Linked DNA regions of Homo sapiens: region 1 is linked to region 2. Evidence: fine-mapped expression QTL. A gene starts in region 2. The other region holds a variant in brackets. All regions are shown on one strand. Distances are from middle to middle. Region 1 overlaps MZT1 (mitotic spindle organizing protein 1). Region 2 holds the start of MZT1 (mitotic spindle organizing protein 1).

The links. PIP is the estimated chance that this variant, and not a neighbour inherited with it, causes the effect.
Region 1: its variant is fine-mapped to the expression of MZT1 in anterior cingulate cortex (GTEx, PIP above 0.99).

Annotation. Positions count from the first base shown.
Region 1 is chr13:72,703,899-72,709,281 of GRCh38, forward strand. It overlaps MZT1 (mitotic spindle organizing protein 1), which reads right to left. Exons shown (of 3, transcript NM_001071775.3): 3 at 4,469-5,383. It also overlaps the pseudogene RPL21P110 and the pseudogene RNU6-80P. Among named protein-coding and RNA genes, the nearest start is that of MZT1, 21 kb to the right of the region's middle. The variant T/A (reference allele first, on the strand shown) is at 2,622.
Region 2 is chr13:72,724,715-72,730,097 of GRCh38, forward strand. It overlaps MZT1 (mitotic spindle organizing protein 1), which reads right to left and starts at 2,915. Exons shown (of 3, transcript NM_001071775.3): 1 at 2,810-2,915. The coding sequence starts at 2,888. It overlaps BORA (BORA aurora kinase A activator), which reads left to right and starts at 3,209. Exons shown (of 12, transcript NM_024808.5): 1 at 3,209-3,293; 2 at 4,212-4,379. The coding sequence starts at 4,227. RefSeq lists silencers at 2,361-2,420, 2,376-2,557, 3,081-3,230 and enhancers at 2,651-2,720, 3,441-3,490.

The sequences.
Region 1 (5,383 bases), 21 kb before region 2:
GTTGTCAACAAGTTAAGGGCAAGATTCTTGCCAAGAGAACTAAGAACACATTAAGTACTCTAAGAGTTGAGACAGCTTCTTGAAACATGTGAAGGAAAATTATCAGAAAAAGAAGCCAAAGAGAAAGGTACCTGGGTGCAACTGAAGTGCCAGCCTGCTCCACCCAGAGAAGCACACTTTGTGAGAACCAATGGGAAGGAGTCTGAGCTGCTGGAGCCTATTCCCTATAAGTTCATGGCACAATAGGTGTTAAAATAAAAGACCTCTGGACTGCTAAAAAAAAAAAAATTCTGCCCTATTCTAATGGACAGTGTCACTTGTTAACAGATTTCCTGAGACTGCTATTTAGGGCTGTCACATGCACCATCTTTTTTTTTTTTTTTTTTTTTAATTAAAGTTCTAGGGTACATGTGCACAACATGCACGTTTGTTATATATGTATACATGTGCCATGTTGGTGTGCTGCACCCATTAACTCGTCATTTACATTAGGTATATCTCCTAATGCTTTACCCGACCCCCTCCCCCCACCCCAGGACAGGCCCCAGTGTGTGATGTTCCCCTTCCTGTGTCCAAGTGTTCTCATTGTTCAGTTCCCACCTATGAGTGAGAACATGCGGTGTTTGGTTTTCTGTCCTTGAGATAGTTTGCTGAGAATGATGGTTTCCAGCTTCATCCATGTACCTACAATGGACATGAACTCATCCTTTTTAATGGCTGCATAATATTCCATGGTGTGTATGTGCCACATTTTCTTAATCCGGTCTATCATTGATGGACATTTGGGTTGGTTCCAAGTCTTTGCTATTGTGAATAGTGCCGCAATAAACATATGTGTGCATGCATCTTTATAGTAGCATGATTTAAAATCCTTTGGGTATATACCCAGTAAAGATGACTGGGTCAAATGGGATTTCTAGTTCTAGATCCTTGAGGAATCACCACACTGTCTTCCACAATGGTTGAACTAGTTTACAGTCCCACCAACAGTGTAAAAGTGTTCCTATTTCTCCACATCCTCTCCAGCACCTGTTGTTTCCTGACTTTTTAATGATCGCCATTCTAACTGGTGTGAGATGGTATCTCATTGTGGTTTTGATTCGCATTTCTTTGATGGCCAGTGATGATGAGCATTTTTTCATGTGGCTGTTGGCTGCATAAATGTCTTCTTTTGAGAAGTGTCTGTTCATATCCTTTGCCCACTTTTTGATGGGGTTGTTTTTTCTTGTAAATTTGTTTGAGTTTTTTGTAGATTCTGGATATTAGCCCTTTGTCAGATGAGTAGATTGCAAAAATTTTCTCTCATTCTGTAGGTTGCCTGTTCACTGTATGGTAGTTTCTTTTACCGTGCAGAAGTTCTTTAGTTTAATTAGATCCCATTTGTCAATTTTGGCTTTTGCTGCCATTGCTTTTGGTGTTTTAGACATGAAGTCCTTGCCCATGCCTATGTCCTGAATGGTATTGCCTAGGTTTTCTTCTAGGGTTTTTATGGTTTTAGGTCTAACATTTAAGTCTTTAATCCATCTTGAATTAATTTTTCTATAAGGTGTAAGGAAGGGATCCAGTTTAGCTTTCTACATATGGCTAGCCAGTTTTCCCAGCACCATTTATTAAACAGGGAATCCTTTCCCCATTTCTTGTTTTTGTCAGGTTTGTCAAAGATCAGATGGTTGTAGATATGCAGCATTATTTCTGAGGGCTCTGTTCTGTTCCATTGGTCTATATCTCTGTTTTGGTACCAGTACCATGCTGTTTTGGTTACTGTAGGCTTGTAGTGTAGTTTGAAGTCAGGTAGCGTGATGCCTCCAGCTTTGTTCCTTTGGCTGAGGATTGTCTTGGCAATGTGTGCTCTTTTTTGGTTCCATATGAACTTTAAGGTAGTTTTTTCCAATTCTGTGAAGAAAGTCATTGGTAGCTTGATGGGGATGGCATTGAATCTATAAATTACCTTGGGCAGTATGGCCATTTTCATGATTCTTCCATGAGCATGGAATGTCCTTCCATTTGTTTGTGTCCTCTTTTATTTCGTTGAGCAGTGATTTGTAGTTCTCCTTGAAGAGGTCCTTCACATCCCTTCTAAGTTGGATTCCTAGGTATTTTATTCTCTTTGAAGCAATTAAAAATATGGAACACTTCACGAATTTGTGTGTCATCCTTGTGCAGGGGCCATGCTAATCTTTGCTGTATCGTTCCAATTTTAGTGTATGTGCTGCCAAAGTGAGTACCACATGCACCATCTTTTTTACAACATTTACAATACTCCAGTCTGGTATATATGAGCCCAACAGTGAACTTCATAAAAGAGAGATCTTTTTGTTGTTAGAACTGGGTTTCTCAAGTATAGCACCTCTGGAAAGGGAATGACTTTAACCTGTTATTTATTTACATTGTTGTAATTAAAAAGCAGTAATATAGATCTGCTGAGATGCTACAAAACTTCACCAACCTACCATCATCAATGGTATATTCCCTAAGAATGGGACAATCCTGGGAAAGAGAAGCATCTGTCACTAGTCTTCTATTAAATTCTCAGCATCTACATCCAGAGCTTCGACTACCACTTTGGCCATCTGATTTTCAATCTCCTTCATCTTCCTCTCCAGTTGTGCCTCTTCATCCCA[T/A]GAGATGATGTATAGTAACAGGCACTAAGGTGTGTGGGCTCCAGACTCAATTTACCAGGGTTCAAATCCTGGCTCTACCACTTCTGAGATTTAAGTTGTATACCACTTTGTGCCTCAGCTTCCTGACCTATAATAGGATGATGCTATCTATCTCTCGTGGTTGCTGTAAGCCTAAAGGTTAAACAATTTGATCTATTAAAAGCACCAAAACCAGTGCCTTGCATGCAGCAAGTTCTCAATGTTAGTTATTTTCAACCACGTGGTACATGTTGTTTCCTGGATGCCCAGTCTATCCATTCATTCAGCCAACATGTATTTATTGAGCATTTCTTATGTGCTAGGCACTGTTCAAGACACTTAAGATACACCAGTGGCAACACAGAAATATCCCCGCCCCTGTGGGACTTTCAGGTAGAGGTATATTTGTTTATATTAATAGATAAAACTAAGTAAATTGTATACTATGTTAGAGAGTGGTAATGCTGTAGGACAAAAAAAAATGGAGATGGGCAATGGTCTTTGGAAGATTGGCAAGGTTTAAGATTTAATATATATGTTAAACACAATACTCTTTAAATAAAAATCATTTTTTTCCAGGAAAATTATATTCCCTTCTTGATTTCCATTTGCTGATAATATCTTTGTTACCCAGGCTTAGAAACTCAGTCACCTTATTTTCTTTTCTATTTTCCCCATAACCTGCCATTAAGTCCTATGTTTATTTTTTGTAATGTCTCTTGAATCTACCCAGATGTGAGCATTGAGGCCTGGGTTACTCAGTAGTGTTCTAACTAGTCTCTGCTTCTAACCTCTCCCTGCTCAAATCAAGCCTACATGTCACTAGCAAAGCAACTCCCAAAAAAAGCTTGACCATGTCCCCTTCTTTCTCTAATGCCTATGGAATTAAAGTTAAACTTAAAAAAAAATGTTTAAAAGCTGGCAATTCCACTGCTGGGTATACACTCCAAAGAACTGACAAGGACCTGAACAGTTATTTGTATACCAATGCCCATAACATTGTGGCTATTGTGAATAGCCTTTTCAGAATAGACAAAAGGTAGAAACAACCCAAATGTCCACCATATATATAAAAGAATACCTGTCTCCCATGTATATATGAGACATATTCATCCTTAAAGAGGAAATCTGGATACATGTTATAACATGGATAGATCTTGGAGACGTGCTGTGTAAAATAAGACGAACACAAAAGGACAAATATGATTCCACTTATATGAGGTATCCAGAATAGTCAAATTCATTGACAAAAAAGTAGGAAACTGTTTACCAGGGGCTGGGAGGAGGAAGCAATGGGGAGTTACTGCTAAACAGGTACAGAGTTTCAGTTTGGGATAAGAAAGTTCAAGAGATGGACAATAGTGATAGTTACAATACAATAAGAATATTCTGAATGTCACTGAACTATGAAACTTAAAAATGGTTAAAAAGGGCAGGGCATTGTAGCTCATGCCTATAATCCCAGCACTTTGGGAGGTTGAGGCAGGCAGATCATCTGAGGTCAGGAGTTTGAGACCAGCCTGGCCAACATGGTGAAGCCCCGCCTCTACTAAAAATACAAAAAATTAGCCAGGTATGGTGGCAGGTGCCTGTAATCCCAGCTACTCGGGAGGCTGAGGCAGGAGAATCATTTGAACCCAGGAGGCGGAGGCTGCATTGAGCCAAGATCATGCCAATGCACTCCAGCCTGGGTGACAGAGTGAGACTCCATCTCAAAAAAAAAAAAAAAAAAAGGTTAAAATGGTAAATTTTATGTTCTGTATCTTTTGTCCTATAGAAACACAAGTTGAATTAACAAAAGCATATATTAAAACAAAAGTACAGGCCAATACCACCAAAATGGTTTTATTTTTGTCATTGACAACAAGCACAACACTGCAATTGTATCATTATTTTGTTTAGTTTCTTAAATATTACTTAAGTATGCATTAAAAATATGTTTACATTTTAAAAATGTGACACTTTAAAGAAGTCCTCTGTAAACACGATCCCTTCTCAATATATTTTCCTGCTTTGTTTCATACATAAATAACTTAATCTACAAAGTCATAAATAATACTATCAACTCTTATGGCCTGGAAGTATATACAAATTTTGGAGTCTGACAAAAGTGTTCTTTATGATTTTATAAATAACACATAGTATTTGTAGTGTTGATTATAAATCAAATGACTTTTTACAAATTCCTACTGTCTCCTCAACCTGTTCTACCAGTAACAGATCTTCCAGTTTACTTGGTTGGTAAAGATGCCAGGCATTTAAAAAGTCAAAATGGTCAAAATTCTATATTAAAAAAAAAAAAAGGCAGAGAAGGTTGCTATTTAAATATTACCAAATCTTAATAAAACCACTTCAGCTTGTCTGAAAAACAAAAAATGCTAGTAAAGAGTGAATGCTTGTACAATCATATAAATGGTACTCAATAAAATCTAAAATTTAAGAAATAATAAAATCAGATGAAATCCATATTAGTTTTGCAAAAAAACTCCACTGAGATTCTATTACAGGAACAGAATCAATACTATTCTACATTTTCTAAAATTTATTTCTAATCTTCACTTTGATGAGTTAAAATTTTAAAGGCAAGAATAATGACAAACAAAACAATTCTGAAAAGCCATACTTATAATCCTTGACATCAAGATGTTAAAAAGGTTTTTTAAAAAAAGCCATACTTGAGATTCCTAATATAGAACATTTGATTGTTTAGTTTTGTTTAATGACTGGAAATCCTTATTTCTTCA
Region 2 (5,383 bases):
TATACATATATATATATATATATATACACATATATATATGTAAAGTGGTGCTACAGGCCGGGCACAGTGGCTCACGCCTATAATCCCAGCACTTTGGGAGGCTGAGGCGGGTGGATCACCTGAGGTCAGGAGTTCCAGACCAGACTGGCCAACATGGTGAAACCCTGTCTCTACTAAAAATACAAAAATTAGCTGGGCGTGGTGGCGGGCGCCTATAATCCTAGTTACTCCAGAGGCCAAGGCAGGAGAATTGGTTCCCATCCCCAGCTTCAACCTGGGAGGCGGAGGTTGCAGTGAGCCAAGGTCGCGCCACTGCACTCCAGCCAGACTCGGTCTCAAAAAAAAAAAAAAAATAGTGCTATGATAAAGCCTCTCATAAGGAATAATTATCAAAATTAAAATTCAGATGCACAGGACGATTTTAGAGGAAAATAAAAATTAAGGTATAAAAAGCAATCAATAGAGAGTACCTAACATACCAAAAAGTTGAAAAGCAAAAGAGGCAACCATACACAGTGGGTTGCGAGGGGGGTGTTGTTGAAAAGGCACGACTATTTTAAGCGTGTAGAATTTTAGGGATATAAGGATGAAAGCAGAGATCTCATGCAGACCTTATTCTAAATTGGCAGAGATAGTTCTTTTCAGAGTGAGGTGCACAGATAATTTATTAATAGAAAGTTAGCCTGCTTCCTTCCATGTCTTTAACAAAATCCTTTCATTTCATGATCAAAATGCAAATGTAGCCAAGAGTTCTGCAATTCACATGACTTAAAGGGAGGTTCACAAATGCTACCATTGAGGGGAGAAATGGTATTCAAAAAGTTTTGAAAATTTTATTTTTGATCTCACGGGTTGATTTAAATACTGTGTAACACCACATCCCCTCTCCTTCATTTTTTGTTTTACTTCACTTTTTTGTGTTCTTACTCTCTTTATAATCTTCATTTCACACCAAGTTTTCTCAGAAGAGATCTTGATGATGCAGCCAACACAAACCATCAGTTCTCAATTGTACATCAGTGATTCCACCAGAGAAAATGTGAGTTTTCTGTTCAAATGGGATCCTGTGGCCATATACATAAGGAACCTAAGTACAGCTAACCTAAGAAAATAGGCTAGAAGTGAGGTCTTATACTCTACCTTTTTCCAAGGAAATATACAAGACAGTAAATTTATATTTATATACACACACATATATATATTCATACATAAATCCACTTACAAAATAAAACTATTAAGTGTTGATACATCGAAAAGGATAGAAAAATAAGCTGAATATTAAGAGTAACATTCTCAGAAAAACAGCAAGGTAGATACTGAACAAGTGAAAAATTAGATGCAAAGGCTCTAAAAGTGTAATTCTTTGAAAAGAAAACCAGGACCAGTGCAGAAAAAGCCAGCAGCCCCTCTGCAAGTGCTACATAAGAAAATGAGGCCGGGCATGGTGGCTCACGCCTGTAATCCTAGCATTTTGGGAGGCCGAGGCATGTGGATCACCTGAAGTCAGGAGTTCGAGACCAACCTGGCCAACATGGGGAAACTCCGTCTCTACTAAAAATACAAAAAATTAGCCGGGTGTTCTGGCGGGCACCTGTAATCCCAGCTACTCCAGAGGCTGAGGCAGGAGAATCGCCTGAACCCGGGAGGCGGAGGTTGCAGTGAGCCGAGGTTGCGCCATTGCACTCCACCCTGGGCAACTACAGCAAGACTGTGTCTCAAAAAAGAAAAAAAGAGCCTACGGTGAAGGAGAGAGAGATACAGCAGTGAGAATTTCATAGGGTTATCTTTTAACAGAGACGGAAGCTGACGTGAGTAGACCCTGGAAAACGTCTAGGCCCACTGCAAATAACAACATCGATCAAACACTCATAATACAGGTGGATGTGAGTAAAAAGGAGACAAAGAAAGAAGACTACAAGAGAGAGGCCATCTGAAATAATATAAAAATAATTGATCATCTTTGATATGTTTTTACATGGTTGTCTTATTTAAATATTCACAACTCCTGGAGGTAGGGTTTTATTTTACAGAAAAAAAAAAAAAAAAAACTAAACAGGCTCAATGATGTTTAAGTATCTAGTCCAAGCTCACCACAGGGGCATAAAGTGGCAGAACCGACATTAGAGGGTAGACAGAGGGTAACCGCAAGACACAAATTTCGTGTTCTGCAACACTTGTGTAGGCTTCACACACACGTGCCTCCGGGGCCGAAAACAGGCGACACCATAGCACTTGGGCACTGGTGTCACCCGCTTCAAGAGGAAACTAGGATAATTATGACCAAAGGGGAACTTGTTCATTCGCCGGATATTAAAGGTGCCTACTTAAGTGCGAAGAACAGGAGGCATAGCGGTGACCAAACACCTGGCCCCTGTCCCCGCCGGGATCCCAACCTTGGGGACCCCCGAAGCGCCCCGGGCGGGAATCGGGTGGGACGCGGCACGCAGGAGGGAACGGGTGTACTGGGTGGGGTGGGCGTGACGCTGTCACCGCAGGAGATCGGGCGGGTAGGGCGGACCTGGGATGCGGGATAGAGGGGGCGCGGCATTCGCGCGAGAGGGACGCGGTGCGCAACCGGCTGACTAGGGGCCGCAACGCCTAGCGCGCGCGACAAACTACGCAGCGGCGGAGACAACTCTCAAGGGATAGGGCCATCAGCCCTGCGGCCCTGGCAGGTCCCTACCAAAGATCTTGGAAGATGCCGTTTGGGGCACTAAGGGGACCTGAAGTCCTCCCCAGGCTCATTCCCGCCTGGGGGCCTTGGCTCTGGGAAGGCACGCAAGGTAAAGGGAGCGCAACGGAAACTCACCGTCCATGGTCTCCCGCACCGCATTCAGATTCGCCGCCGCGGCCGCCGCCGCCGCCCCAGCACCGCTGCTACTCGCCATGGCTAAGGCCGAGGGAGGCGGGAGAAGGGCCTGACCCGGAACTGGAGCGCCTTCCTCTCTCCGAGGCAATCACACAGCGCGTCTCGGCCCACGCCGGGCAGGCTCCGCCCCTCGCGCTCGCCGCCGGCGTGAGGCTGCGTTGATTTGAATTTGGAGCCACGTTCCTCTGCGCGGAACGTGGAGCGAGGAGTTGCCATTCGAATTTCCTACGCGGCCTCCGTGCGATTGGCTGGTTCGCGGATGGCGGGACGACACGATTGGCTAGTCGCTCACAAGCCCCGTGCCCTGGTTGGCCCAAGACAGCGCGGAAGCGGGGAGTTAAAGAGTCTATGCCTGTCGTGGAAGCTGGCCTGGCCCCCGGAGCTCCCTGGAGTCGGTACTGGGGGCTTCGTTTTGTACGCACCGGTAGGTACGCTCTTTGTGGTCCCTGGCCTTTCCTCCTGTCTGAATGGAGAGGTTTCTTTTCCCAGCTCCTGACTTGCCTGCCCGCTCGCCCCTGGTGAATGGGAGCAGTCAGGGAGTAGGTGTGGAAGAGAGGGGCACCAGAAAGAGTGGCCACGTAGGGTTGGGGGCGACGCCTCCTTCGCACTCCATCCAGGGAAGCCGGCTGCATCTCAACCTTCCAGAAGTAGACTCTTTTCCACCCCACCCCGCCAAGGTGTAGCCTCTGTAGCCTCCTTTGATTGCAAGTAATGCAGTCTCCCTTTCTATCCCGGGAGGGGTGGAGGGGAGGTCTTGGCGAAAGGAGGATTTTTGGAGGAAAGGGGACCCCAGGCAGTTAATTTCCTAGCCCCTGTCAATCATACTTCTCTGGCTAGGACTCATGTGCAAGAAAGGCACAAGCTTCCTCATCTCTTACCTGCTTGCTACAAAGAATTGTTTAATAGCAACTGTAGTTGGATAGGGTATCCGAAGAATGTTCATAGTGTTGAGACATGAGATGATGAATTTAAAAAAAATTGTAGCTATAAGTCCTTTAGTTGAGAAGAGATCTGGGCCTGTTGTAACCTTTAGTTTCCTCAGAGGCAGATCTGAATTCATTCATATTTGATTGCTGCGTATAAGCCACTTCACTTCTCTGAGCTTAATACTTTCGCAAAATAATATCACTAGTAAGTTACTGCTATAGCTTTCAAGGTTGTTTCGAGGATCAGTTGAGAACATTTATATGTGATACTTTTTTTGTAAGCTGTATCATAGCCCCAAGAGTGTGAGGTTTTGAGTTGTTTTTTGTGACACATTTGTCGAGTACATTTTAATAGTTAAAATTAATATCTATGGGACTTTGTAATTTTAACATGCATACTCTTGATTTCTTTTTAGTTTTCTCTCTGTGCTATGGGAGATGTCAAGGAATCAAAGATGCAAATAACACCAGAAACTCCAGGAAGGATCCCTGTTTTAAATCCTTTTGAAAGTCCTAGTGATTATTCTAATCTCCATGAACAAACTCTCGCCAGTCCTTCTGTTTTTAAATCAACAAAATTACCAGTAAGTTATTCCTGACTAGTGTTTACAACTAATTTTAAATGTAAGTAATTACAAATAATTTTAAATGTAAACATCTGTCTTTACAAGGTAAGGAGGAAATACATTATGGAGCATATATAGCTGCAATATACTTTTTTAAATTGTAGTGTTCATTATAATCTAGTGGTTAGGTTAATAAGTTAGCTAGAAGATTTTTTTTTTTTTAAGTTCAAGAACATACGTTAGCTTCCTGCAGTTGTGGGTGTAGCTACATTCTGTGGTTGACGATATAGCTACTAATACATTAGAGAAGAAGCTGCATCATCTAATATTCTGTTCTCACTTATTTGGCAAACATTATTTGAGTGTTGCTATGTGTCAGATACAGTGCTAAGCAGGGATTACACTGTGAACAAGTTAGGATCATTAGGCACAAATCCTTAAGGAGGTTATACTCCGATGTATGGGTCACAAACTTTCTGTTAGGGGCCAGACAGTAAATATTTAAGCTTTACAGGTCATTTGGTCTCTGTCACAACTACTCACTTCTGTCTTGTATCACAAAAGCAGCCATAGGCAATGTGTAAAGAGATAAATGTTACTCTGTTCCAATACAGCTTTATTTATGGACACATTTGAATTTCATATAATTTTCACATGTCACAAGATATTTTTTTGTTTGTTTTCCCAACCATTTGAAACTGTCAAAATAATTCTTAGCTTGCAATCTATTATAAAAAGAAACTAACCCCTATTTTAATGTGTTAAACAGAACTAGATGAGTAATATCAAGGCAGTGTGATAGGTGATATGATTAGTACTTAGGACAATAGTAATATGAAGGAAAAGTGTTCTTCAGGATATTAGAAAAGGCTTCATCACTTTATCTTTTTTTTTTTTTTGGTAGAGATGGGATTTCACCATGTTGGCCAGGCTGATCTCGAACTCCTGACCTCATGTGATGCACCCACTTCAGCCTCCCAAAGTGCTGGGATTACAGGCATGAGCCACCATGCCCGGGCCAC